Homo sapiens: one gene and its partners. The protein of the gene in region 3 interacts with the protein of the main gene of each other region in a biochemical or structural test. Each region holds a gene or a part of one and is shown on either strand. Other genes may lie near its edges. The genes, in order: GSK3B, TAPT1, SMAD1, HIPK2, FOXG1, BMPR1A and CDK7.

Region 1 (3,937 bases), on a different chromosome or scaffold from region 3:
TATGTTGAGATACGTTCCATCGATACCAAGTTTATTGAAAGTTTTTAGTATGAAAGGCTGTTGAATTTTGTTGAATGCCTTTTCTGCATCTATTGAGATAATCATGTGGTTTTTGTCATTGGTTCTGTTTATGTGATGGATTACATTTATTGATTTGCATATGTTGAACCAGCCTGTCATCCCAGGGATGAAGCCGACTTGATCGTGGTGGATAAGCTTTTTGATGTGCTGCTGGTTTCGATTTGCCAGTATTTCATTGAGGATTTTCGCATCAGTGTTCATCAGGGATATTGGTCTAAATTTCTTTTTTTTTGTTGTTGTGTCTCTGCCAGATATCATTTGGTATCAGGATGATGCTAGCCTCATAAAATGAGTTAGGGAGGATTCCCCTTTTTTCTATTGATTGGAACAGTTTCAGAAGGAATGATACCAGCTCCTCTTTGTACCTCTGGTAGAATTCGGCTGTGAATTTGTCTGGTCCTGGACTTTTTTTGGTTGGTAGGCTATTAATTATTGCCTAAATTTCAGAACCTGTTATTGATCTATTCAGAGATTCGACTTCCTGGTTTAGTCTTGGGAGGGTGTATGTGTCCAGGAATTTATCCATTTCTTGTAGATTTTCTAGTTTATTTGCGTAGAGGTGTTTATAGTATTCTCTGATAGTAGTTTGTATTTCTGTGGGATCAGTGGTGATCCCCTTTATCATTTTTTATTGCATCTATTTGATTCTTCTCTCGTTTCTTCTTTATTAGTGTTGCTAATGGTCTATTTTGTTGATCTTTCAAAAAATCAGCTCCTGGATTCATTTATTTTTTTTTTTGAAGGTTTTTTTTCTGTCTCTATCTCTTTCACTTCTGCTCTGATCTTAGTTATTTCTTGTCTTCTGCGAGGTTTTGAATTTGTTTGCTCTTGCTTGTCTAGTTCTTTTAATTGTGATGTTAGGATGTTGATTTAGATCTCTCCTGCTTTCTCTTGTGGGCATTTAGTGCTCTAAGTTTCCCTCTAAACACTGCTTTAAATGTGTTCCAGAGATTCTGGTATGTTGTGTCTTTGTTCTCATTAGTTTCAAATAACTTATTTCTTTCTGTCTTAATTTCGTTATTTACCAAGTAGTCATTCAGGAGCAGGTTGTTCAGTTTCCATGCAGTTGTGTGGTTTTGAATGAGATTCTTAATGCTGAGTTCTAATTTGATTGCACTGTGGTCTGAGAGACAGTTTGTTGTGATTTCTGTTCTTTTACATTTGCTGAGGAGTGCTTTACTTCCAATTATGTGGTCAATTTTAGAATAAGTGGGATGTGGTGCTGAGAAGAATGTATATTCTGTTTATTTGGGGTGCAGAGTTCTGTAGGTGTCTATTAGGTCCGCTTGGTCCAAAGCTGAGTTCAAGTCCTGAGTATCCTTGTTAATTTTCTGTCTCCTTGATCTGTCTAATATTGACAGTGGGGTGTTAAAGTCTCCCATTATTATTGTGTGGGAGTCTCAGTCTCTTTGTAGGTCTCCAAGGACTTGCTTTATGAATCTGGGTGCTCTTGTATTGGGTGCATATATTTTAGGATAGTTAGCTCTTCTTGTTGAATTGATCACTTTACCATTATGTAATGGCCCTCTTTGTCTCTTTTGATCTTCGTTGGTTTAAAGTCTATTTTATCAGAGACCAGGATTTTTTTTTGCTTTCCATTTGCTTGGTAGATCTTTCTCCATCCCTTTATTTTGAGCCTATGTGTGTCTTTGCACGTGAGATGGGTCTCCTGAATACAGCACATTGATGGGTCTTGAGTCTTTATCCAGTTTGCCAGCCTGTGTCTTTTAATTGGGGAATTTAGCCCATTTACATTTAAGGTTAATATTGTTATATGTGAATTTGATCCTGTCATTATGATGCTAGCTGGTTATTTTGCCCATTAATTGATGCAATTTCTTCTTAGCATCGATGGTCTTTATAATTTGGCATGTTTTTGCAATGGCTGCTACCGGTTGTTGCTATCCATGTTTAGTGCTTCCTTCAGGAGCTCTTGTAAGGCAGGCCTGGTGGTGACAAAATCTCTCAGCATTTGCTTGTCCGTAAAGGATTTTATTTCTCCTTCACTTATGAAGCTTAGTTTGGCGGGATATGAAATTCTGGGTTGAAAATTCTTTTCTTTAAGAATGTTGAATATTTTCCCCCTACTCTCTTCTGGCTTGTAGAGTTTCTGCCGAGAGATCTGCTGTTAGTCTGATGGCCTTCCCTTTGTGGGTAACCCAACCTTTCTCTGGCTGCCCTTAACATTTTTTCCTTCATTTAAACCTTGGTGAATCTGACAATTATGTGTCTTGGGGTTGCTCTTCTTGAGGAGTATCTTTGTGGTGGTCTCTGTATTTCCTGAATTTGAATGTTGGCCTGCCTTGCTATGTTGGGGAAGTTCTCCTGGTGAATATCCTTAAGAGTGGTTTCTAACTTGATTCCATTCTCCCCATCACTTTCAGGTACACCATTCAAACGTAGATTTGGTCTTTTCACATAATGCCGTATTTCTTGAAGGCTTTGTTCATTTCTTTTCACTCTTTTTTTTCTAATCTTGTCTTCTCGCTTTATTTCATTAATTTGATCTTCAGTCACTGATATCCTTTCTTCTGCTTGATTGAATCAGCTACTGAAGCTTGTGTATGCTTCACCATGTTCTCATACTCTGGTTTTCAGCTTCATCAGGTCATTTAAGCTCTTCTCTACACTGTTTATTCTAGTTAGCCATTCGTCTAACCTTTTGTCAAGGTTTTTAGCTTCCTTGCAATGGGTTAGAACATACTTCTTTAACTTGGAGAAGTTTGTTATTACTGACCTTCTGAAGCCTACTTCTGTCATCTTGTCAAACTCATTCTGCATCCAGTTTTGTTCCCTTGCTGGCGAGTAGTTGTGTTTCTTTGGAGGAGAAGAGGCGTTATGGTTTTTGGAATTTTCAACCTTTCTGCTGTGGTTTCTCCCCATCTTTGTGGTTTTATCTATCTTTGGTCTTTGATGTTGGTGGCCTACGTATGGGGTTTTGGTGTGGATGTCCTTTGTGTTGATGTTGATGCTGTTCCTTTCTGTTTGTTAGTTTTCCTTCTAACAGTCAGGTACCTTAGCTGCAGGTCTATTGGAGTTTGCTAGAGGTCCACTCCAGACCCTGTTTGCCTGGGTATCACCAGAGGAGGCTGCAGAACAGCAGATATTGCTGCCTGATCCTTCCTCTGGATGCTTCGTCCCAGAGGGGCACCCACCTGTATGAGGTGTCTGTTGGCCATTACTGGGAGATATCTCCCAGTCAGGCTACACAGGGGTCAGGGAACCACTTGGATAACAGTCTGTCCCTTATCGGGAGCTGAAACGCCATGCTGGGAGAACCATTGCTGTCTTCAGAGCTGTCAGGCAGGGACGTTTAAGTCTGCAGAAGCTGTCTGCTGCCTTTTGTTCAGATATGCCCTGCCCCCAGAGGTGGAATCTAGAGAGGCAGTAGGCCTTGCTCAGCTGTGGTGGTCTCTGCCGAGTTTGAGCTTCCCTGCTGCTTTGTTTACACTGTGAGCATAGAACTGCCTACTCAAGCCTCAGCAATGGCAAACGCCCCTCCCCCCACCAAGCTCCCACATCTTAGGTTGATCTCAGACTGCTGTGCTGGCAGCGAACAAGGCTGTGTGGGCGTGGGACCCGCCGAGTCAGGCATGGGAGGGGATCTTCTGGTCTGCCTGTTGCGAAGAGCATTGGGAAAGTGCAGTATTTGGGCAGGAGTGTATCGCTCCTCCAGGTACAGCCACTCATGCCTTCCCTTGGGTAGGAAAGGGAAATCCCCCAACCCTTTGCACTTCCCAGGTGAGGCAATGCCCCACCCTGCTTCGGCTCGCCCTCCATGGGCTGCACCTGCTGTCCAACCAGTCCCAGTGAGATGAACCAGGTACCTAAGTTGGAAATGCAGAAATCACCTGTG
Region 2 (3,937 bases), about 130 Mb from region 3:
AACTCTACACAATGGAACAGGAGAATGGATTCTGCTGGACAACTAGCAGTCTTCAGGGAGAAAGTCTTTTCTTATTTCTATTTTATAGAAGCACTGTAAAATTGCTATACAATTATCTTATTTCAAGCTAATCCAATAGGAAAAAAATCAGACTTACACAAACGTTTTAAAGAACTATATTTTAGAGCTGAAATAAGCCTGAGAGATCATTTGGTCAGTGGACACTCTGTGACCAGCAGACATTATTTCATCGACTTGTTCCTATCAGTCTTCCACAGACGAACAGGGACTTATCTTGCTCATTGCTGATCCCACCACTTAGAACAGTTTCTGACACATAGGAAGTGATTAACAAATCTTTGTTGATAAAAAATAGTTGAAAACATGTAACAATGTAGAGATATTACATTATTTTGTAAATTTATCTCCTCCTCTGCTGAGTTACCAGGAGTGGCAGGATATATTTTGATGGCCTAATTATAGCAAGTTTCTTTCACTTTATGTAACATGAATATAAACTCTAAATACTGGCCAAAGTCCACAAGAAAATCTGGACAAGCGTATCAGTGACACTTGGTCTTTACACTTATTCTAAAGGAAAACCTAATAAGGGTCTGGCCTATCCTGTGCCTTCATTAGATTTTTTTAAAACCAAAGCACTGTCTTGAACTTGACTCCCAGATGTGAAAAATATTTTGTGTGACATTCAAAACACTTGTAAAATGCAAATACCTTCATTTGCTGAGAAATATTAAATGGTCTATAATCAAGGCCGAGCCTATTTTTTCCAAAGACAAAATTAAACATTTTGCCACCATTAAGACCAAAGCAATAATTCAAATTAAGATAGCTCTATCACTTGTGAATTACAAATAAATACTTATTATACAGTGGGAAATTCACTCTACCAAATACAATAGTAAATATTAAAATAAATTCAGTGACCTTTTTAAAAAAGATTACAAAACTGAATTTATTGAGATTCACACAAGATGCACTTATAAAATTAGTACTGAATGCCATTAAAACAGAAGAAATGAACATAATCCCGAACTCCCAACAGCATCTGCAAAGGAATGGAAATCTTCTGAAAATGACAGCGCAGTAACAGAATAATTCAAGCGGAACTGAAGATCTATCCAAACCATGTTCCTGCTCTGAAATCAGGGTTGTGTTTGGCAAAGCTTTCCCCAAACTATTCCATTCACGGTGGCATTGTTCCTTTTGTTGGTAAAGGGAGATGGAAAAAATAATTCTAAAATGGGGCTCCATTAAAACACACACAAAGCAATTAAAACCTTTTTCATTTTTAACTTAAAATACTTCCTGGTTTCACAAAGGCATGTCCATACAATTTCCTCAACATTAATCTTCAGATTTCTTTAGTTAATGCAAAACATTAAAATTCACTTACTTTTTTGTATTTCAAATGAACAAGTCAGAACATTAAAGCTTGCTTTATATTTCATCCAAGAAACAGACAAATCACCTAAAAATTGCTTTCTGCCTATGTATGTACGCCTGAAACATTTGCATGAGAGCTAAACTTCAAAATCAAAACATCAAAGGAAATAACAGTTAACAGTACCATCTTCTGGACAGTTCTGACACCAGAAGTTGTAGAAGTTTTACAGAAATGCAAACACGGTTGTCAAGATAAAATGGGGTGGGAAATAACTTCTATGATATAGACCACAAACTAGTAATTAAGCGGAAACACAATCTTCATCTCAAATAAAACCAAAAAGCACCTTTTGGTTGCTGTTCCCAACAGCCATACACAGATGCCTCCCCACACCAACAGCCACCCATACGCCTCAAACACCCCATTTACTTTCACACAAAATCCTCTCCAGACCCAGGCCTGCCCCATCCCCAGCACAGGCCCACCCTGATAGTCACATCCCCACAGACACCCTCCCACAGAACACACACCCTGCCCCAGCACAGGCACACTCGCTGTCGACCCAAACACAAAGACTAATGCATTTGGTAAGCCCAAGCAAGATGATGCTGTCTAACACACTTGGAGCATTTACTTTACAGTTAAAGTTGACAGTTTTGAATTTTGTACATTGACAATTTTTCAGCCTGTTCAACATCGAATCCTTTTAGCTGTAATAATTTATGAAGTAATTAGTTTTAAAGCAAAATCAGTTAAGTATACCTTAAAGTTAACACTGCTCTGCTTCCTTGGTGTAAAAAGTGCCCTTTTGTAAGGAAATTTGTTTTATCCACCAATTAAATGACATACAGCTCACATTTTGCTTTAAAGAGTAAACTGAAAAATTATGAAGGATTTTTCCCAGTAATGCATAGCCTTCATTAATTATTTTTTTAATAAATAAACTAGTTTAGCATTTTTTTTTAACCCTACAAAATGCTACTATTCATCATGTCTTATTTAAGGTAGCCTTTTATTCTGATTAATTAAGATACATCTTTAAGGGTTATTCTGGTGGTAAGAACATTTATCTTGACTTATGTTTAATTTTTTTAATGCTTTGGCAGATGAAGTAACGTTTGAAAACTGTTTGTGAAAATAGTATGAGACTGGAAAGATTACGTCGTGGTAAAAGTTTCACAGTTTTCCAGGTATTTCCTTATACTGAAGAGGCCTTGAGGCAAATTCAACATTCTGGAAGCCCAGACTGACAAAGCAAAACAGATTTTGATGTTGCCTTTGTTGGGTCCTGGAAATGATGCTGCTGCTTGGCCAGGCAGGAGGAAGTTTTATAATCCATCAAGCTTCCCAGACAGTCAAGGCCGGAGGTCGCTCCTGTCCTGTGGTCTGACCCTCAGCCAGGCCATATTACTGGAAGAAAGATACTAAGATTTGCTTGCCAATAATAATTTAAGTTTTTAAATAAATATTTAAGTGCCATGTTTAGCATCTATTTGTCCTGGCAACACAGCACTTGTTGCCCCAGGACCCAGCTTCTTCAGCGCATGAAGCCACAGATTCAGTCAATTCGGTTTCCACAAATTGTGAACCTGTCTATCTCTAACAAATCTTTCTTTGAGGATCTGTGTTTTAATTCAGAATTGTCCTGCGTTATGTCCTTCTCGTCACCATCTGGAGTTGTCAAAAACTGATCAGAATTGCTTGTCACAAGTAATGGTATGATATTTTCCTTTTGATGAATAGGTTGTTTGGTGATGGAGGCAGACAGGTTTTCTTCTGTGGAAAGGCCTGTGATAAAATAGATCCATTAAATTAGAGAAAGACTTTTCTCCAATTATTAATAAATACAAACTTACCAATACAGTGGTGCTGAAAAAAGTGCCCATTATCCATGCTTTCCGATAAAGCAAATGATAACCAAATAGCATGTTGTATAAGCAGCCATCATTTATAATAAAACTTAGAGGCTAATCATCTGTTTGTTCAACTTTATGGAAGGGTACATTACATTGCTCGTATCACACAAACAATGCCATCACCCAACTGCAGAAAGATCACAACTCCTACATTACGGCTCCTCTCTATATAATCAAGACCTAACATGACTGTTGGCAGTCCTGAAACATTAACACTTGCTCCAATACAGAACATCAGGGAGTGGGCCAAGAAGACTTTACTACATTCCACCTGTCATCTGTAGTCACTTCAGCTACAGATGGTTTAGCATCATCATCTCTGGGAAGTCCAAACCAGAGGTTAAAAACAAACAAACAAATAAACAAAACCCCCAATGTTCATTTTAGGCCACAGAGATCCTGGAGCCTGGCTTTGGGGACAGCTGGGCTGGGGCCTGGAGAGACTCATCTGAATCATACATTCAATCCATGTAAGAACAGCTTCTTTGAGGCAAAAAAGACACACCATCAGCTGTACACATTTAAAATGTATAATCTGATGAGTTCTGACATGTGCATACACCTGGTCACACTACTGCCATGATGGAGGTAATGACACATCCAGCTCTCTTGTAGT
Region 3 (3,937 bases):
AAATAAATCTAGTAAGTGCAGGAGCTGTATGGAGAAACTTAAAAGTGCACTAAATAATATTATGCTCAAGAGCACAGTAGGCCAATCTTCCCCAAATGAAATCAACGAAATTCCAATAAATTCCCAAAGTGTTTTTCATAGGACTTAACAAGGTAATCCTAAAGTATATAATCTAGAAATCACAAAAACGTAATGTTGGATGAACATAAGTTGTACAAAGAAACTCCAATATTATGTAACATTTTTAAATATATAAAATATTACATATTGTCATGGACTCATACATATGTAATAACAGTATAAAAACATGCATGAGAATGATAAGCGTCAGATTCAGAACAGTGGTTACCAAAGGGAGCAGAATCAGAGGAGCAAAAACAGGGGTTCCAGTTTACACGTAATCTTTTATTTCTTAAAATGAGTAGGGGATACAGAGATGTTTGTTATACTACTGGTCTTTAAAATCTTTTTTTAAAATATGTCTTAAATATTCCACAAAAATACAGAATGCCTTTTATTTGAAAACCATGTTATTACATGATCTAGTTTAGTAATTCCTAAACACCAATCCAATAGCTACATCAGTAACACCTGAAGTACTTGTTAGAAACAAAGATTACCAGGCTATCCCAGGATCAGGATTTCTGGGAGGAGAGCCATGTGATTCTAATATACAGCCTTAGTAACCCAGGAACTATTAACAGCCAATCCATCAACAAAATTGGTCCCAATCGACAATGAGACATTTAAGTGCTTGAATATCTAATCACTTTCCAATGATCCAACTCTCTAGAATGTAGATTCTAACTTGAGGGCAAAACCGTATAAATTTTAAAATATATCCTTTACCATACCCTCCCAAAAGACTATACATGTAAAAACTGGGTATATTTTATAAAGTAATAGCATCAAATGATTCCATAGAAGGATATAATTCCTTCATATTCACCATAGGAAATATGCCACAGCAAAATTCCGCCAGAGATGATAAAAAGTGCTGTTCTTAAGTTCAGAATGGTTTAAGTCACTGGCAACTACCCTCATGATGTACTTCCCTTAAGCATATAGACAGCAATAATGCATTTCTTTCCTAATTTTCTTCCCTTAGAATACAATTCATAGCTAATTTTATCTAGAGAAATGCAGAGAACCATGTGAGACATAAAAAATAAATTTAGAAAGAAAACAATTTATTAAAAATTAGAGGTATTAGTACTGCAATGACAATTGTCATAGCCTGCTCCCAAGACATAATGTTAACTAGAGATGACTAAGCTGTTAAAATGTATGAAACACTCAGGGGCTTTCTCTCTTGCATTCACACAGACACACACACACACACACACACACACACACACACACACACACAGTTTCCCCAAATATTTTTAAATTACAACTAAAAACAAGCAAAGGGATTATTTTCATGTTCTAAACAACACAAATCTGGTACTGGGCACACAAAGCACATCAACATAAAATAACTCACTTACCAGGGCTTTCTACTCTCTTATAGTGGTAGGGATTGATGCAGACCTCCTTCTGCTTGGAACCAAAAGGAAACTCACAGCATTCCAGTGGTTTTAGTTCATGGTGGCTCTGAAGATCGGGCCAGCGCCACACACGGCAGTAAATGACATGAGGCAGTCCCTTCCGGTGGGAGACTTGCAGCCTGCCATCCAGAGAGCGGGGAATGGTGACACAGTTACTCGGTTGCCCTGGGCAGCTCAAGGCCTTTTCCAGTTCCTCCATGGCACCTTTCTTTTTCTTCAGTTTTTTCACCAAAGCATCAACAGCTTTCTCTGCCCATTTTTCTTCTTCATCGCCCTGTTTCCACCCAAGAAGTCTCTTCACAGCTGGACTTGTAAAGGAAAATAAACTTGTCACATTCATAATGACAGCACTAGTTATACTCCTTGGATATGGTGAAATAAAGCTGTCTCCAAATGCAAAAGGACAGCAGAAGAGATTTGTTTATTTACAGAGAAGTCTCTTTAACTTCTTAGTTTGAAGTCCAGAAGAGTAGAAATTACCATTCCTAGTGTTTAAAAAAGTAACCCAGTCAGCACCTACAAAACAAAAAAAGAATGGTTAGAATCATCTTTACCATACAACCACATTTATTAAGTAATCACCATGTGCTAGGTACTATTTTAAGTGCTTTTATGTAATACAGTATGCTGTGGACTGAATTGTGACCCCTAAAATTCATATGCGGAAGCCCTAACTCTCAGTATGACTATATTTGGAGATGGAGCCTCTAAGAAAGTAATTAAAGTTAAGTAAGGTCATCAGGGTGGGGCCCTAACCTGATAGGACTGGTGGTCTTAAGATTGCTATCTCCCTCCTCCAGCCTCTATGCACACACACTGAGGGTACTGCAAGAAGGTGATCATCTGCAAGCCAGGAAGAGAGCCCTCACCAGAGCCTGTATTGTCCAGAACCTTGATCTTGGACTTTCCAGACTCCAGAACAAAGAGAAAATCTATTTCTGTTATTTAAGCCACCCAGTCTATGATATTTTATTATGGCAACCAAAGCAGACTAATATATAGCATTTAATGCTTTTCACAATCCTTTGAGTTAGGTAATACAATTGCTGCCACTTTACAGATGAGTAAACTGAGAAGCAGTTTAAAAAGTAAGCCACTGTTAGCAAAAGCTCTGGGATAAAAGCAACAAAGTTAAAAAGCCCAAGTTCTCAAAAGATATTGTAATATTTTAGATTTAGATTCATTTATAACCTCTAAAAATATATTTCAAAACACCTCAATCAACAAAAACTGAAAGCAACAGGGAGAAAAAAATAGTCTAATATCTCTGTTTTTTTGGTTTGTTCTACAAATATTTCTTAGGCTAAAAGAAAATTCCTCTTATATAAATGTAGTAATATTTTAGGGTATTTCTTCAGTGAACAAGCCTGTGTCTATGGGCTACAGGACAAATAGGATAGGAAATACATCTCCTGCTTTAAAAATGTTGCTATTTATTGACATAAAAGGAATAAAGCACATGGACACATACTGTACCAAATTCTTTAGCCAAGTTGCCTCATTTAAACTGTTTACTCTTTAGCACATGAAAACATAAAATGTGAAAAAGGTTAAGGAGGTTAACTTTGTACAAACCCTGGCTAAACTGGAGTAGCACGTATCAGACCAACCTCCTTCCAAACAAACAAGCCAGAAAACAAACAAACAAAAGCCCAGCTTTTTAAAGGCATCAAAGAGGAACCAAGGCACTCAGGACTTGAGGGGGCCAAGATCCTGGAGAGAGGGGAAATGCAATGAAGTGAGCTGAATATTCGTCACCACTCTTTCCAGGGATTTGCCAATAGCTATGCTATGAGCAGCAAAAGGTCTAGGAGCCGAGCAGAAAGAGGTAACTAAGAGGCTAAAAACTAAGCAGAGCTTCTAGTAGCCTCATAGCGCTGAGGAACCCCAAAATAACAACACAGCAACAAATGGAGTTGAGGGCCTGCTGAGGAGAAACCCTGGTAAATAGTCTAGGCTTTCAATGGAAGCTCCTGGAGGAATATGCCCCAGTCTAAGGGCAAAAATGAAACGGATCAGTCTTTACAACCAATCTAGAATCATCTTAATCCTAGCCTTGGTCTAGGTGATGGGTATTGCTCTCTAACAGCTTGCCAGAAGAAAAACAAATTCTCTGTAGAGGAAGACAACATCAACCTTAGCCACTACAATTTTAAATTCACAGTGTATGCAATGAACCAAAAGTTATCAAGCATACCAAGAAACAGGACCAAATGATCAAAACAAAACAGAATAGAAACAGACCTAACGGGTGACCCAGGTAATGGAGTTACCAGAAACAGACTTTAAAGTATTAATGATTACTATTTACTATGTCAAGGAAAGAGAAGACAAGGTTGAAGATTTTAACAGAGAACTGGAATCCATAAAGAAGAATGAAATAAAAA
Region 4 (3,937 bases), on a different chromosome or scaffold from region 3:
GCTGAGATTGAGTGGCTGCTGCTGCTGGAAGTGGGGGCCCGGCCGCTGCTGCCGGTAGGTGATGGCTCCAGATGAGCTCCCTGAAGAGTGACCGCTGGTGGAGGTCACGTTGCTGGAGGACTTGGACTTGTAGGAGGACGAGTGGTGACTGGTGTTGACTGTGGCGGGAGGAGAAAGAGGTCAGATCAGTGGCAGGGTCCCAGCTGCCCAGAAGATGCTACCCCACCAGAGAACAGTGGTCTTCCAGGAAGAAACATGTGCCTGAGGCCGGGCAGTAACAAATCAGCCTCATCTCCCCCGGACCCACTAGGACTTTGCCTTGACTCTGGATGCAGTGGGGCTCTGGCTCACTCCCTCGGCTGGGAGGGTGGTCGGGGCTGCATGAGGGAATGAAGCAAGGGAAAGCGGAAAAGAATCAGGAGAGGCAAGGTGGGCTGGTGGCCTAAGGCCAGGCCCAGTGCCGTTCCTCTGGGAGGTGTTACTTTCAGCATCTGGAAAATGGGTAGGAGAGATCTGCTATAATTTGAATGTGTTCCCCAAAGTTCTTGTGTTAGAAACTTAGTCCCCAGTGCAAGTGTTTAGGGTGGGGCCAGTAAGGGATGTTAGGTCCTGAGGGCAGAGCCCTCATGAGTGTATGAGTTCATCAGTGCATTAATATTATCTCGGGAGTGGGTTAGCTATTGAGAGATTGGCTTTTTTGATGAAAACAAGTCTGGCCCCCTCACCCTCATGCTCTTTTGTCCTTCTGCCTCCTGTGCTAGGAAGATGCAGCACAAAGGTCCTTGCCAGATGCTGGCATCCTGTTCTTGGACTTCCAGTCTTCAGAATCGTGAGCCAAATAAACTTCTATTGATTATAAATTACCCAGTCTCAGGTACTCTGTTACAGCAACACAAAATAGACTAAGACAGGATCCCTGCTTGGTCCCCACCATGGGTGACTATGAGTATCAGAGGAGACAGTGTCTGTGGTGGGACCTAATAAACTACTAGAAGCTAAAATAACCCTCAGAGTCACCTGGTCCAGTTACCTGCCTCTAGGCAGGATGAGACTAAATCATCCGGGGAATGGCCCTGTGAGCCAAACATGGCCAAGCACAAAACTGCCTCCATGTTATTGCCAAGGGGGCTGAAGAGTGGAAAAAACACTGCAACCCTCCAGAGGTGACCTCATGGTCAGCAGGTGGCTCCATCAACAGTTCTCAAATGTAATTCCTGCATCTTGTTCAGTGCAGACTCTGGCCAGCAGCTCTGGGGGGCCCGAGCACCTGCATTTCTGACAAGCTCCCAGGGGGTGCCAGTGCTGCTGCTTGGGGGACCACGCTCTGAGTAGCCAGGGGCTCTGAGAGAGGTGGGTTAAACCCTGAGCTGGATGGCTTCCATGTTACCCAGCCAGAGAGCCAGGGGAGCCAGGAGCCTCTTCAGAGCCCAGTGGTTTTAACTCATCCAAGTATTTTCTGAGCTCCTGCCCTGTGCTAAGGACGGTGACTGTGTACCACCAGGGACGGGGGTGGCAGGGAGAAGGCTGAGAGCGTGAATAAGGAGGAGGCATCACAGATCACGCAGATGAGGTGGCGAGGCCAGAGGATAAACCAGATGAAGACGCTGACAGTCAGGGACAGCCCAAGTCCAAGAAGGCTGATGGAACAGGACAGGGCAGGACAGGGCATGAGTGTCCAGCCCAGCAGGGGCAAGAGCCCCAGAGGGCGGGAGCTCTGCTGCCGAGTGGGGGCCATCTCCCCACCCCAGCTTGGGGAGTTCTGCAGACAGGACCATCACCCCTTGATAAAAGCAGAAGAGATGCTTTACTAGCCCCCCATGTCCCTGTGCCTCAGCTCTCCTCCAGGAGAGGGCTGCCTAACACACAGTGCAGTATTAATACACACCTAAATGAAATTTCCAATCAAATGCACCCAGATGCACCAGTCATAGCCATTCATTAAATGCAAGCACTTTTGTAATGGCAAAAGCAACAAACAGACCCAGACTAGTGAGAAGATACTGGGCTTCCTTTTTTTTTTTTTTTTTTTTTTTTTGAGATGGAGTTTCACTCTTGTTGCCCAGGCTGGAGTGCAATGGTGCGATCTCGGCTCACTGCAACCTCTGCCTCTCAGGTTCAAGTGATTCTCCTGCCTCAGCCTCCCAAGTAGCTGGGATTACAGGCACCCGGCACCACGCCTGGCTAACTTTTTTGTATTTTTAGTAGAGACAGGGTTTCACCATGTTGGCCAGGCTGGTCTCAAACTCCTGACCTCAGGTGATCCACCTGCCCTTGGCCTCCCAAAGTGCTGGGATTACAGGCGTGAGCCACCGCGCTGGGCCAACACTGGGCTTCTTTAGGAGCAAACTGCATAATGGCCTAGGAAAGTGTGGGAGGCAGAAAATTCCAGATACCTTTCTCTAACTTCAATGACAACGGAAGCAGAAAAAGAGGGGTTTAGTAAGTGAAGGCTACGACAAAGCAGCCTGAAGACTGTGTGGTTTGTGTTGTATAGTTAGAAACCATAGTTACAACAAGCATTGCTTCTGTTCCTTAAACGCTAAAGAACAGTAGAGTTAATGGAGAAGAAAACATCTTCCAGGTGGAAAGACAGGCAGATGGTCCCCCACCAAGAAGGGCAGGGCAGACCAGGGAATGAACAAGAGCCTGGCGCTGGGGCTGGGGGCTGTCCTGCCTCCTTGGGCAACCAGTCCTGCTGGGGTGAGATGTGCACAGAAACAATACTGATTTTTTTTTTTGAGATGGAGTCTTGCTCTGTCTCCCAGGCTGGAGCGCAGTGGTGTGATCTTGGCTCACTGCAACCTCTGCCTCCCAGGTTTAAGTGATTCTCGTGCCTCAACCTCCCAAGTAGCTGGGATTACAGGCATGCACCACCACGCCCAGCTAATTTTTTTTTTGAGACAGAGTCTCGCTCTGTCGCCCAGGCTGGAGTACGGTGGCGTGATCTCAGCTCACTGCAGCCTCCGCCTCCCGGGTTCAAGTGATTCTCCTGCCTCAGCCTCCCGAGTAGCTGGGACTACAGGCGCCCACTGCCACACCCAGCTAATTTTTGTATTTTTAGTAGAGACGGGGTTTCACCATATTGGCCAGGCTGGTCTCGAATTCCTGACCTTGTGATCCACCTGCCTTGGCCTCCCAAACTGCTGGGATTATAGGCATGAGCCACCGCGCCCAGCTGCTAATTTTTGTATTTTTGGTAGAGACAGAGTTTGACCATGTTAGCCAGGCTGGTCGTGAACTCCTGACCTCAAGTGATTTGCCTGCCTCAGCCTCCCAAAGTGTTGGGATTACAGGCGTGAGCCACTGTGCCCAGCCATGGTACTGATTCTTAGTCTAAGAACCAGACTGAGGAAGACTTTGCCCAGGAAAAAGGGAGCGCATTTTAAGAGAGAAAGGTAATGAGTAACCTCCTTTCCGCCATCCTTTGTTGATTTGAGCACTTCATGTGTTGTATCTTGTACTCAGTTATTTTTCTTCATTAAGTTTCTGGAATGTGCTTGAAATATTTTTATCACCTTGACTTTCTATGGAGGACAGCTAAATTCCTTTTTTTATTTTGAGGTGGAGTCTTGCTCTGTCGCTCAGGTTGGAGTGCAGTGGTGCAATCTCGACTCACTGCAACCTCTGCCTCCCAGGTTCAAGTGATCCTCCAGCCTCAGCCTTCCGAGTAGCTGGGATTACAGGTGTGTGCCACCAAACCTGGCTATTTTTTGTATTTTTTAGTAGAGATGGGGTTTTGCCATGTTGGCCAGGCTGGTCTCGAACTCCTGATCTCAGGTGATCTGCCCCACCCTTGGCCTCCCAAAGTGCTGGGATTATAGGCGTGAGCCACCGTGCCGGACAGCTATATTTCTGTGATTTATATTTTTTGGAAACCTTGCTGGACTTTAGGATTACTGCCTGGTGACACTGAAAAGCGTAAGGAAGCCCTAGGAGA
Region 5 (4,627 bases), on a different chromosome or scaffold from region 3:
TGCTTACATTTTATAATTATTTACCTTCTAGAGGAAGGAAAAGGTGCCTTTCATTTATGCTTCTCCACCTCCCTCTTCTCTGGGGCTACATCCTCCGTAAAATGTGGTATGTTTCGTGCCCATGTGGGATGAAACAGCCTTTGATCAATGTGCTCCCCACTAAATTCCAATCCCTGGGAAATGCTGGGCCTTAGCCCTGCCCCTGGCCACGGGATCCTTTTAAAGCCCCCGATTCGCAATTTCCCCATTCACTTCAACCTCCAACCGAACCTTCCCAGTTCCAAAGCCCAAGAAGCTGGGACTGTGAGATCCACGTTCCCAAGGCTCCCCGGTGCTTTCCAGCAGCACTCAGGGTTGGCAAGAGCTGGCTTCAGTATACTGTTATTTCAGGAATGAGGCCCGCACAAAATAAAAGCATTTGAGAAACGGAAAGGAAAAAAAAGGAGTGAAAATAGGAAGGCTTAAAAAAAAAACCGGAAAGAAATAGACGCCCACCCTTATTTTCCCTCCAATGTCAACAAGCAAAACGAAAATATTTCCAGGGTGATCGCTCGCAGCTACCCGCTTCCAATTCGGATTAGAAGCTGAGGCTGGAGCGGCGAGGAGAAAACGACATCGAGTCACCCCGCGCGTGAGCGACGCTCTGGAGCAGGAGAGAAGGAAAAGGAAGAGACACACGTATATAGCATGTGTTACCTGATTTATTTCGAGATTGTTTGGTACTGTTTTCTCTCTGGGCACCTCTCATTTCGGAAGGCCATCAGAGGCGCCCACTACTGAGCGGCCCCGGCCGCCGCAGCAGCACCCGGAGCCCCAGTCCCGGTTTCCCCGCGGTGCCGGAGCCCGGAGCTCGCCGCCGCCCAGGCCTCAGGAATCGAGTAAGTAACCCCTGTTTGGCCCCGCGCTCCTCTGCCCACTTCCTCCTCCTCATCTCATCGCTCCCAAAGCTCTCCCACACCCTCCTCCCCCGAAGTAAAGGACACCCCCGCACACACGCCAGCGGTGGGCCTTATCTCCCCCCTTATCCAAAGCTGCGCTAGACTATTACCTACAAAGGGCACAATTTTCCTGCTGGCTCAGAAATGCCAGACACTGGCCTGCAAGGCCGACTCGGAAAAGTAGTGCCTCGCCTCTACCTCCTCCATTTCCTGCCCTCTCGCATCCTCTCCCTGCACTCCCACTCTTCCCACTACCACCACCACCCCCGCTTTCAAAAATAAAATTGGATACAAACTTTAATCACTAAGGACAAATATTGACGCTTAAACGAAAATGACCCAGTACAATGAGGAGGAAGCCGGAAATGTGAGCTATTGGCCCTAGGAGGGGAATTTCGGTGGAGCGGAGCCGGCGGGGTGGAGGGGGTGGCGGGGGCGCAGGGAAGGGCTGCGGCACCGCGTGCTCCCGCCGGCGTATCCCTACGCGGCTCCGCGCGGCCTCGGGGTCCGAGGCCCGCGGAGAGGGGGAGGCGAGCGCCCGAGGGGGCGGCAGCCGGCGGGCGGGGCGGGGGTGGGTGGGCCCGGCCCCTCCGATTGGTCGACGGCGAGAGAGACGCTCCCGCACGCCGCCAGCTCTGATTGGCCCAGCGGTAGGAAAGGTTAAACCAAAAATTTTTTTACAGCCCTAGTGTGCGCCTGTAGCTCGGAAAATTAATTGTGGCTATAGCCGCCTCGATCGCTGTCTCCCCAGCCTCGCCGCGGCCGCTCCGGGACGCGCCCGCCCGCCGCCCGGCTCTCCCCCCCTTTGGGCTGCTGCTGCTGCTGCTGTGACTGCTGCTGCGAGAGGAGGAGGAGGAGGAGGAAGCAGCGGGGGGGGGAGCGGGGGGTGGGGGGGGAGACCAAGAAGTACAGTTGGGAGCGAGGGAGCTTCACCCCCGGGGCGGTGGTTGTTTCTTTTTTCTTTCTTTCTTTTTTCTTTTCCTTTTTTTTTTTTTTTCTAATTCCTGAGGGGTGGTTGCTGCTTTTGCTACATGACTTGCCAGCGCCCGAGCCTGCGGTCCAACTGCGCTGCTGCCGGAGCGCTCAGTGCCGCCGCTGCCGCCCGCGCCCCCCGCGCCCCGTTCGGCACCCACCGGTCGCCGCCGCCCGCCGCGCCGCTGTCCCGCTCCCGCGCCGCCGCCGCCGTTTCCCCCCGACGACTGGGTGATGCTGGACATGGGAGATAGGAAAGAGGTGAAAATGATCCCCAAGTCCTCGTTCAGCATCAACAGCCTGGTGCCCGAGGCGGTCCAGAACGACAACCACCACGCGAGCCACGGCCACCACAACAGCCACCACCCCCAGCACCACCACCACCACCACCACCATCACCACCACCCGCCGCCGCCCGCCCCGCAACCGCCGCCGCCGCCGCAGCAGCAGCAGCCGCCGCCGCCGCCGCCCCCGGCACCGCAGCCCCCCCAGACGCGGGGCGCCCCGGCCGCCGACGACGACAAGGGCCCCCAGCAGCTGCTGCTCCCGCCGCCGCCACCGCCACCACCGGCCGCCGCCCTGGACGGGGCTAAAGCGGACGGGCTGGGCGGCAAGGGCGAGCCGGGCGGCGGGCCGGGGGAGCTGGCGCCCGTCGGGCCGGACGAGAAGGAGAAGGGCGCCGGCGCCGGGGGGGAGGAGAAGAAGGGGGCGGGCGAGGGCGGCAAGGACGGGGAGGGGGGCAAGGAGGGCGAGAAGAAGAACGGCAAGTACGAGAAGCCGCCGTTCAGCTACAACGCGCTCATCATGATGGCCATCCGGCAGAGCCCCGAGAAGCGGCTCACGCTCAACGGCATCTACGAGTTCATCATGAAGAACTTCCCTTACTACCGCGAGAACAAGCAGGGCTGGCAGAACTCCATCCGCCACAATCTGTCCCTCAACAAGTGCTTCGTGAAGGTGCCGCGCCACTACGACGACCCGGGCAAGGGCAACTACTGGATGCTGGACCCGTCGAGCGACGACGTGTTCATCGGCGGCACCACGGGCAAGCTGCGGCGCCGCTCCACCACCTCGCGGGCCAAGCTGGCCTTCAAGCGCGGTGCGCGCCTCACCTCCACCGGCCTCACCTTCATGGACCGCGCCGGCTCCCTCTACTGGCCCATGTCGCCCTTCCTGTCCCTGCACCACCCCCGCGCCAGCAGCACTTTGAGTTACAACGGCACCACGTCGGCCTACCCCAGCCACCCCATGCCCTACAGCTCCGTGTTGACTCAGAACTCGCTGGGCAACAACCACTCCTTCTCCACCGCCAACGGCCTGAGCGTGGACCGGCTGGTCAACGGGGAGATCCCGTACGCCACGCACCACCTCACGGCCGCCGCGCTAGCCGCCTCGGTGCCCTGCGGCCTGTCGGTGCCCTGCTCTGGGACCTACTCCCTCAACCCCTGCTCCGTCAACCTGCTCGCGGGCCAGACCAGTTACTTTTTCCCCCACGTCCCGCACCCGTCAATGACTTCGCAGAGCAGCACGTCCATGAGCGCCAGGGCCGCGTCCTCCTCCACGTCGCCGCAGGCCCCCTCGACCCTGCCCTGTGAGTCTTTAAGACCCTCTTTGCCAAGTTTTACGACGGGACTGTCTGGGGGACTGTCTGATTATTTCACACATCAAAATCAGGGGTCTTCTTCCAACCCTTTAATACATTAACATCCCTGGGACCAGACTGTAAGTGAACGTTTTACACACATTTGCATTGTAAATGATAATTAAAAAAATAAGTCCAGGTATTTTTTATTAAGCCCCCCCCTCCCATTTCTGTACGTTTGTTCAGTCTCTAGGGTTGTTTATTATTCTAACAAGGTGTGGAGTGTCAGCGAGGTGCAATGTGGGGAGAATACATTGTAGAATATAAGGTTTGGAAGTCAAATTATAGTAGAATGTGTATCTAAATAGTGACTGCTTTGCCATTTCATTCAAACCTGACAAGTCTATCTCTAAGAGCCGCCAGATTTCCATGTGTGCAGTATTATAAGTTATCATGGAACTATATGGTGGACGCAGACCTTGAGAACAACCTAAATTATGGGGAGAATTTTAAAATGTTAAACTGTAATTTGTATTTAAAAAGCATTCGTAGTAAAGGTGCCCAAGAAATTATTTTGGCCATTTATTGTTTTGTCCTTTTCTTTAAAGAACTGTTTTTTTTTCTTTTGTTTACTTTTAGACCAAAGATTGGGTTCTAGAAAATGCACTTGGTATACTAAGTATTAAAACAAACAAAAAGGAAAGTTGTTTCAGTTGGCAACACTGCCCATTCAATTGAATCAGAAGGGGACAAAATTAACGATTGCCTTCAGTTTGTGTTGTGTATATTTTGATGTATGTGGTCACTAACAGGTCACTTTTATTTTTTCTAAATGTAGTGAAATGTTAATACCTATTGTACTTATAGGTAAACCTTGCAAATATGTAACCTGTGTTGCGCAAATGCCGCATAAATTTGAGTGATTGTTAATGTTGTCTTAAAATTTCTTGATTGTGATACTGTGGTCATATGCCCGTGTTTGTCACTTACAAAAATGTTTACTATGAACACACAGAAATAAAAAATAGGCTAAATTCATATATATCTTGATACTTTTGTCTCTTTTATTAAGTAGAGCTAATTTTTTAAAGACCAATCAACTTATAGGGAATTCAAAGGCTTTTTCAGCCAAACT
Region 6 (3,937 bases), on a different chromosome or scaffold from region 3:
GGTTTGAATGCAGACGATGCTGGCAGAAACTGAAGGTTATAGAAGGGCAGCAGTTAGCTCACAGAAATAGAACTATGTTCTTACACTAGAGTCTAGCAGCCTGCAGTGACAGATACTGTCATATTTGGTACTAAATCTTTCAGGCTGGAAGCAGAACGGAACTAAAAAAACTGTTCTAGTAATTACTTCCTCTCTCTGACTCAGCTAGGCCATTCTTTGTGGGTTACTCTCAAGGGAATGAAAGGTGGAACCAAACAGACAAGTGTATATGTATTTCATTATGAATGTTAAATAAGTGGTTCAAGACACAACACAGACTTGATTTTACATTTACCATACTGATGAGATAAACTACTGAAAAGACAAAAAATATCACATATGCACACACAGGTAACAGAAAAAGTGCTGCTAAATAGTGTTTTGATGATTACATGCCTTCAGTTTCAATAATTTTCACTTTTTTTTTTTTTTTTTTTGAGACATGGTCTCACGCTATTGCCCAGGCTGGAGTACAGTGATGTGATCAGAGCTCACTGCAGCCTCAACCTCCCAGGCTCAAGTGATCCTCCCACCTCAGCCTCTGGAGTAGCTGGGACCAAGGGCACATGCCACCATGCCCGGCTAATTTTTAAATTCTTTGTAGGGACAAGGTCTCCCTATACTGCTCAGGTTGGTCTTGAACTCCTGGGCTCAAGCGATCCTCCCGCCTCAGCCTCCCGAAGTGCTGGGAATATAGCCGTGAGCCACTATGCCTGGCCAATAACCTTCACTTTCTTATACCGAATATTTAGTAAAAGAATTTGCTACTGAATGAGTATAGAGAACATTTTTATTTGAGATAGAGTCTCACTCTGTCACCCAAGCTGGAGTGCACTGGTGCAATCTCGACTCACTGCAACCTCCGCCTCCCAGGTTCAAGCAATTCTCCTGCCTCAGACTCCCGAGTAGCTGGGATTACAGGCACCCCACACAACGCCTAGCTAATTTTTTTGTATTTTGTTGGTAGAGACAGGGTTTCACCATGTTGGCCAGGCTGGTCTCAAACTCCTGACCTCAAGTGATCCACTTGCCTCAGTCTCCCAAAGTGCTGGGATTACAGGCATGAGCCACCGTGCCCGGCCAGGAGAGAAAACACTTAAAAAAAAAAAAAAAAAGCTGGAAGTTTGTGTACATACATATATTACTCATCCCCGCGCCCCCCACACCACTCTCCTTTCAGAAATAAATTCCGTAATATAATGTCAAGGCTTCCGTTGGATCTGATTGCTACAAAGCGGAAAGACCTCCTTTATGTTAGAAACATCAACTGTAAAAGATGGGGTGGGGGAAGCAGGAGGTACAGGAAGGGAAGAAATCCACTGAGCAGGAAATGAGGAGACTGGGATTCTGTTTTGCCATGGGCCTACCCCGCTTTACCTAGCTGGATGGTCTTGGGCAAGCCATGTCACCTTTCCAGGCTTCATTTACTCTATAAGGCTACAGGACTAGAGGACAGGTGAGGGAACCTGACCAGCTTTAAAATCCTATTACATTAACAGAAGACACGTATCAATTCAGCTCTGGAAAACAAACAGTATATAATATATCACAGCAACTGATTTTTCAAAAATCTAGTGACACAGAAAAAGCAGTTTAGTGTGGCAGAAATATCACTTGAGATAACAGCAAGAAGTGAAGGGTTCAAGTCGCAGTTACGGGCACAGATAAGTTACTCTCTGAACCTCAGCTATCTATAGAAAATGGGGATAATAATTCCTGCCTAATTCAAATCAAGAGGTTATAGGTAGATCAAATGAATATTTACTAAAGTGCTTAACTACATGTAAAATAGTATACAAATGAAGATGTTACTAATAACAAAGATCAGAACACTAAAAGATCACTGATACATGAAAAAACTCAAAGTTATATGAAACTTCCTAGAATACTATTTGAATTCATGAGACAAAAAACTCAATTACAGTAGTTGTATCTGGAGCTTATGTTATTGCCAAATATTCAACAGAATACTTAGTAGGGGTCTATTATGTGCAGGCAAGGTATTAAATGCTAGAAACGCAAAGATGTGGCATCAAAACCACATATGTGGCCTTGAGAAACTTGGTGGAAAGCAGAGGGGGAATAAGCACAAAAGCAAATAAATACAATGTGAAAAGTGACAAAATACAAAGGCCAGGCGCGGTGGCTCACGCCTGTAATCCCAGCACTTTGGGAGGCCAAAGTGGGCACATCACCTGAGGTCAGGAGTTCAAGACCAGCCTGGTCAACATGGTGAAACCCCGTCTCTACTAAAAATATTAAAAAATTAGCTGGGCGTGGTGGCAAGGCGCCTGTAATCCCAGTATTCAGGTGGCTGAGGCAGGACAATCACTTGACCTGGGAGGTGGAGGTTGCAGTGAACAGAGATCAAGCCATTGCACTTCAGCCTGGGCGACAAGAGCGAAAATCCATCTCAAAAAAAAAAAAAAAAAAAAGTGACAAAATACGGAGGTGTTTACATGTAAACAAAGGAAAAGGCTCATCCTAGGTGTCAAACTCAAACTGATCTTAGGTGTCAAAAGTAATGAAATCTAAGCTACATCTTAAAAACTTGCAAGATTTCACCAAGCAGATATTGAATACAAAGAAAAGTAACAGGAAAGAGCCTCTCTGTGCTCTCCCTAGGGGACAGCGCCCACTCTGTTGATGGTTCCTGGATGTACCCCCTCTAGCCATGACCTGCTTAGACATCTCCTGACTGACTTGTCTTAAATGAACTCTTGATTTGCCTCAAACCTGGTCTTACCAAAGTCTTTTGGCTCAACCTCCAAAATGTATGTCAATTGTTTTCATTTTTCTCCAACTCCGCTGTTGTCACCAAGGCCCATCACATCATGCCTCTACTAAGGTAAGAAGTCTCCAACTGTTCCCTCTGCTTCTGCTCTTGGTCCCTGCAATCCATTTTCCACAGAGCAGCCAGAGACATTTTATAAACACAAATCTGTCACTCCTATATAAAACCAATCAATGGCTCCACAATGCACTCAGAATAAAATCCAACCTCCACTGTGTGCTCCCAGGGCCCAACAGGATCTGGGTCCTGCAGGCCTCACCATCATCACTTTACTTGGCACATGGCCTTCTGTCAGTTCTGAACATGTCAATCTCTCGCCACCCACAAGTCCCGTGTATTTACAAAGAATAAACTACGAGCCCTGGGGTGGACTGGGGGTATAGGTTATATTTCAAAACAAACACACACAAAATATTTAATAGCTTACATGTTTAAGTATAACATCTCAGGAAAAAATGAAAACATATACATACAAAGAGACAAACAGTTACAAGAGACACATGACCATACACAGGCACATTTACAGGTCCTTGTCATCAACAGCAATTTTTGGCATCAATGATTTTACTAGATTTTTATTCCTGGCTAAGTAATTTTTCATATTTTCCCAATAATTTATTGGCTTCCTTTTTCTACAGCAAATAAATGCCCTCTGCCGCAACCTTAAGATAGAATGTCTACAACAGAACTCAGATGGCAAACGGTTGGTGAGACCAATGGGCTACTGATGCACTATACATATGAGATAATCAGCAATGGTAGCCTAATGAATTCTGCAACAACAGTCTGCATCATTAATTAAATAGAAACCAGGAAGACATCAGCAGAAGGAAAGTCAAGTACAAGGAAGCAAGAACTAGGGAAAAGGTGGCATGTCTACAACTGTGCTGTCCCATATGGTAGCCACTAGCCACATGTGACTTAAAATGTAGACGAATTAAAATGAAGTAAAATTAAAAATCAGTTTCTCACCCACACTAGTCACAACTCAAGTGCTCAAAAGCCACATTTGGCTAGTAGCTATCACACAAGACAGCAGAGATATAGAAAACAGGTATTGGTTTTGTGGGCCCCAAGGTCTCTGTCACAACTATTCAATTCTGC
Region 7 (3,937 bases), on a different chromosome or scaffold from region 3:
TGGAATAGTGCCTACCATAGAAAATGTATTCATTCATTCAATGATAGCTGCTGTTATTTAGAGGATTTCTTAAGAATCACATTTGGGACTTTTCTTTTGAATTGGAGACTGGAATGAGGTTTTCATTGGTTAATTTCTTAATTCTAACTCCAAATATTTGGGGAAAGAGGTTGGGTATTTTTTTAAGTAAAATTTAATATTTTTATGCTTCAAAATACTAATTCCTTTAGTACTGTCCAAAAAAGGACAAATGTCAAATTTAATCAAATGATTTAAGCTTTATAGGGAATTACCAACAGTTTAAATGCTTTTTAAATTTTTAAAAATTGCCTCAGTTGCTATGATACTGTCAGGTATTAAATAGTGAATCACATTTTAATTTTTTAACTTTGCAGCTCCTTGATGCTTTTGGACATAAATCTAATATTAGCCTTGTCTTTGATTTTATGGAAACTGATCTAGAGGTAAGATTAAGATTCCTGGAGAAATTCCTTTGTCCCAGTTTATCAAACAAGAACCTAAATATTTGTTTTCTACCCAAGAAGATACTGGTAGTAAAAGAAAAAAAGCTTAATTTTGTTGAAATTTGGATGTACTCTGAGGCAAAAGGATCTCTAGTTATTTTCTTCTAATCATTTAGTGATATCCCCAGTGTTACATACAAAGATTTGGATTTCATTGGCATTTCTGCCTTCTAAGTTCCCATAGCTAGTTGACGTCATTTTTGGAGAAATGAGCATTAGACCTATAAGATTTGTTTGCTTTTTTTTTTTTTTGTGATGGAGTCTCAGTCTGTTCACCCAGCCTGGAGTGCAATGGCGTGATCTCGGCTCTCTGCAGCCATCACCTCCTGGGTTCCAGTGATTCTCTCACTTCAGCCTCCCAAGTAGCTGGGATTACAGGTGCCACCACGCCCGGCTAAATTTTATATTTTAAGTAGAGACGGGGTGTCACCATGTTGGCCAGGCTGGTCTTGAACTCCTGACCTCAAGTGATCTGCCTGCCTCAGCCTCCCAAAGTGCTAGGATTACAGGCATGAGTCACCATGCCTAGCAACCTATAAGAATTTAAAATTTATTTCTGGCCAGTGCAGTGACTCACGCCTGTAATCTCAGCACTTTGAGAGGCCAAGGCAAGAGGATTGCTTAAGCCCAGGAGTTCAAGACCAGCCTGGACCCCATAGATCCTGTCTCAGCTTTACAAATTATATTAAAAAATAAAGAAACTTATTTCCATATAATCAGAGTAATGTCATTCTTTTGAAAGCCAAGTTTTTTTGTTTGTTTTTGTTTTTGTTTTGTTTTTTTGAGACAGAGTCTTGCTTTGTTACCCGTGCTGGAGTACAGTGGCGCGATCTCAACTCACTGCAACCTCTGCCTCCCAGGTTCAAGCAATTCTTGTGCCTCAGCCTCCTGAGTAGCTGGGATTACAAGCGCCCATCACCATGCCCAGCTAAAATAGAGATGGGGTTTCACTATGTTGGACGGGATGGTTTCAAACTCTTGACCTCTGGCGATCTACCTGCCTGAGCCTCCCAAAGTGCTGGGATTATAAGCGTGAGCCACCATGCCCGGCCTCTTTCTTTTAGATAAATACCTAGCAGTGGTATTGCTAGATCACAAGATTATTGATTAGTGGTATCGATCACAATATTAGTGATGCTGTTATAGATCACAATACTAATGGTATTGATCCTGGAAGGACCTATCATAATAGGCTATGGACTCACCACTAGGCTATGGATTGCACCATTGCACTCCATCCTGGGTGACAGAGTGAGATTCCCATCTCGAAAAAAGAAAAAAAAAAGAAACAAAAACGTATGCCAGAATTCAGTTGGTACAGATGTTTGGCTTTATTAATAATTATCAAAACTGGAACAATCCAAACATCCCTCATTCTAACTGTACAAACAAACTGAAATACTACTCAGGAATAGAAACACACTATTGATAAATGCAGCAACATAGATGAATCTGAAATGCATTATACTAAGTGAAAGAAGCCAGGCTAAAAAGACTATGTATTGAACCATTTCATTTATATGATATTCTGGAAAAGGCAAAATGAAAGGAACCAGAAACCAGATCAGCGGTTATGGGGGCTTTGGGGTAAAGGAAAGGAGTAAGTACAGAGGGGCCTCAGGGAATTTGGGGAGGTTACGGAACTATGCTTTGATTATAGTGGTGGTTACATGACTGGATGCATTTGTCAAAACTCATGGAACTATACACTAAAAAGGGTATGCTTTACCTTAAATCTGATTTTAAAAAAAGAAAAGGGGAACTTTTAGTTCCTAACTGATAAATCTAGAATAAACTGACATTAGGCACAGCTCATAAATAATGCCATCAAAACTCAGTCTTACGCTTTAACTAAGCTCCATTTTCTTCTCTGTTGCATTCTTCATGTGTACAGTTCTCAATATGGTGTTCCAGATGCTTCTAGGTATATGTTTGTAGAGTTTAATAATACCTGAGGAACGAAAGTGCTTTCTTTTCTTTGATTCTAGCACAAGTACTTGGCCTGGTTGATTGACTTGTCTTGTATCCCTGAACCAATCACTTGGCCAGGAGACTGCAGTGTGATAATGGGGATGCCTGGGTCATGTGCCTACCTCTGGAGGCCTTAGGTTGACTCAGTCCTACCTTAACCATGTGGACTAAGCTGAGAAGAGATGGCTTCCCAAAGGAACACTAACTGCTATTGTCAGAAGATGCAAGCAGAAACAACAGGTGTTTGCTACTTTCATGCGAAAGCAGTAGAGGACAAAGCACTGCTTTCTTTTCAAACCAGAAATGCTCTCCCTACCCATCTAACTCTGGAGATTTTGACAGGGCTTCCTGAGGAAACTTAGATAACCTCTTTTGAGAGTCTCCTGTATTGATACTTACATTTTAAGTCTGTAAATTGTTTTATGTGGTAGAGTTTATTTGAAATAATAAAGGGTACCTGTATATTGTATACTTGCTTTACAGGTTATAATAAAGGATAATAGTCTTGTGCTGACACCATCACACATCAAAGCCTACATGTTGATGACTCTTCAAGGATTAGAATATTTACATCAACATTGGATCCTACATAGGGTAAGGTTTTTAATATTGCTTCTTTATACTAGTCAAGTTTTATATAGCCAATTTGGTACATAGTGGTCTGAATATGTAAATTGTTTAACAATGAATTTATAGCTGACTGTTTTATCCCATCTTTTTGCTATATATTATTCCCTTCACTTGTTCCAGCAGTTGGTGCTGTAAGGACTCCATATTACTTTGTGAAATTTAGAACTGGAAGAGATCCAGTCCCTCATTTTTTTTTTTTTTTTTTTTTGAGATGGAATCTTGCTCTGTCACCCAGGCTGGAGTGCAGTGGCGCGATCTCTTGCTCACTGCAAGCTCCGTCTCCTGGTTTCATGCCATTCTCCTGCCTCAGCCTCCCGAGTAGCTGGGACCACAGGTGCCCGCCACCACGCCCAGCTAATTTTTTGTATTTTTTTAGTAGAGACGGGGTTTCACCGTGTTAGCCAGAATGGTCTCGATCTCCTGGCCTCGTGATCTGCCCATCTTGGCCTCCCAAAGTGCTGGGATTACAGGCGTGAGCCATTGCGCCCGGCCTCCTCATTTTTTAATAGATGAAGAGCTAAGTTGCTAAGTGACCTGACCATGGTTATATTTTTTTTCAAGGTTGGCTGCTGATAATGGACAGAGTATTAAAACATAGGTTTTGACCCAGGCATGGTGGCTCACTTTTGTGTTGCCAGCACTTTGGGAGGCTGAGGCAAGTAGATATCTCGAGCCCAGGAGTTCTAGACCAGCCTGGGCAATATAGTGAAAACTCATCTCTACAAAAAATACAGAAATTAGCTGGGTGCAGTGGTGCACACCTGTAGTCCCAGCTGCTCAGGAGGCTGAGGTTGGGGGATCACCTGAGCCCA

What was found.
Region 1: of the proteins of SMAD1 (region 3) and GSK3B, one has a biochemical effect on the other in vitro, tested with the Homo sapiens proteins (one study listed by BioGRID).
Region 2: the proteins of SMAD1 (region 3) and TAPT1 form a complex in vitro, tested with the Homo sapiens proteins (one study listed by BioGRID).
Region 4: the proteins of SMAD1 (region 3) and HIPK2 form a complex in vitro, tested with the Homo sapiens proteins (one study listed by BioGRID).
Region 5: the proteins of SMAD1 (region 3) and FOXG1 form a complex in vitro, tested with the Homo sapiens proteins (one study listed by BioGRID).
Region 6: of the proteins of SMAD1 (region 3) and BMPR1A, one has a biochemical effect on the other in vitro, tested with the Homo sapiens proteins (one study listed by BioGRID).
Region 7: of the proteins of SMAD1 (region 3) and CDK7, one has a biochemical effect on the other in vitro, tested with the Homo sapiens proteins (one study listed by BioGRID).

Annotation. Positions count from the first base shown.
Region 1 is NC_000003.12:120,003,838-120,007,774, reverse strand, and holds part of GSK3B (glycogen synthase kinase-3 beta), read left to right. Parts: intron 1-3,937. UniProt on the Homo sapiens protein: Constitutively active protein kinase that acts as a negative regulator in the hormonal control of glucose homeostasis, Wnt signaling and regulation of transcription factors and microtubules, by phosphorylating and inactivating glycogen synthase (GYS1 or GYS2), EIF2B, CTNNB1/beta-catenin, APC, AXIN1, DPYSL2/CRMP2, JUN, NFATC1/NFATC, MAPT/TAU and MACF1.
Region 2 is NC_000004.12:16,160,345-16,164,281, forward strand, and holds the end of TAPT1 (transmembrane anterior posterior transformation protein 1 homolog), read right to left. Parts: intron 3,194-3,937; coding exon 2,964-3,193; 3' UTR 161-2,963; downstream 1-160. UniProt on the Homo sapiens protein: Plays a role in primary cilia formation. May act as a downstream effector of HOXC8 possibly by transducing or transmitting extracellular information required for axial skeletal patterning during development. May be involved in cartilage and bone development.
Region 3 is NC_000004.12:145,512,567-145,516,503, reverse strand, and holds part of SMAD1 (mothers against decapentaplegic homolog 1), read right to left. Parts: exon of another isoform or gene 3,022-3,937; intron 2,067-3,021; 5' UTR 1,891-2,066; coding exon 1,491-1,890; intron 1-1,490. UniProt on the Homo sapiens protein: Transcriptional modulator that plays a role in various cellular processes, including embryonic development, cell differentiation, and tissue homeostasis.
Region 4 is NC_000007.14:139,575,131-139,579,067, forward strand, and holds part of HIPK2 (homeodomain-interacting protein kinase 2), read right to left. Parts: intron 159-3,937; coding exon 1-158.
Region 5 is NC_000014.9:28,765,136-28,769,762, forward strand, and holds the start of FOXG1 (forkhead box protein G1), read left to right. Parts: upstream 1-1,651; 5' UTR 1,652-2,144; coding exon 2,145-3,614; 3' UTR 3,615-4,627. UniProt on the Homo sapiens protein: Transcription repression factor which plays an important role in the establishment of the regional subdivision of the developing brain and in the development of the telencephalon.
Region 6 is NC_000010.11:86,885,366-86,889,302, reverse strand, and holds part of BMPR1A (bone morphogenetic protein receptor type-1A isoform 3 precursor), read right to left. Parts: intron 1-3,937. UniProt on the Homo sapiens protein: On ligand binding, forms a receptor complex consisting of two type II and two type I transmembrane serine/threonine kinases.
Region 7 is NC_000005.10:69,255,065-69,259,001, forward strand, and holds part of CDK7 (cyclin-dependent kinase 7), read left to right. Parts: intron 1-395; coding exon 396-464; intron 465-2,978; coding exon 2,979-3,089; intron 3,090-3,937. UniProt on the Homo sapiens protein: Serine/threonine kinase involved in cell cycle control and in RNA polymerase II-mediated RNA transcription. Cyclin-dependent kinases (CDKs) are activated by the binding to a cyclin and mediate the progression through the cell cycle.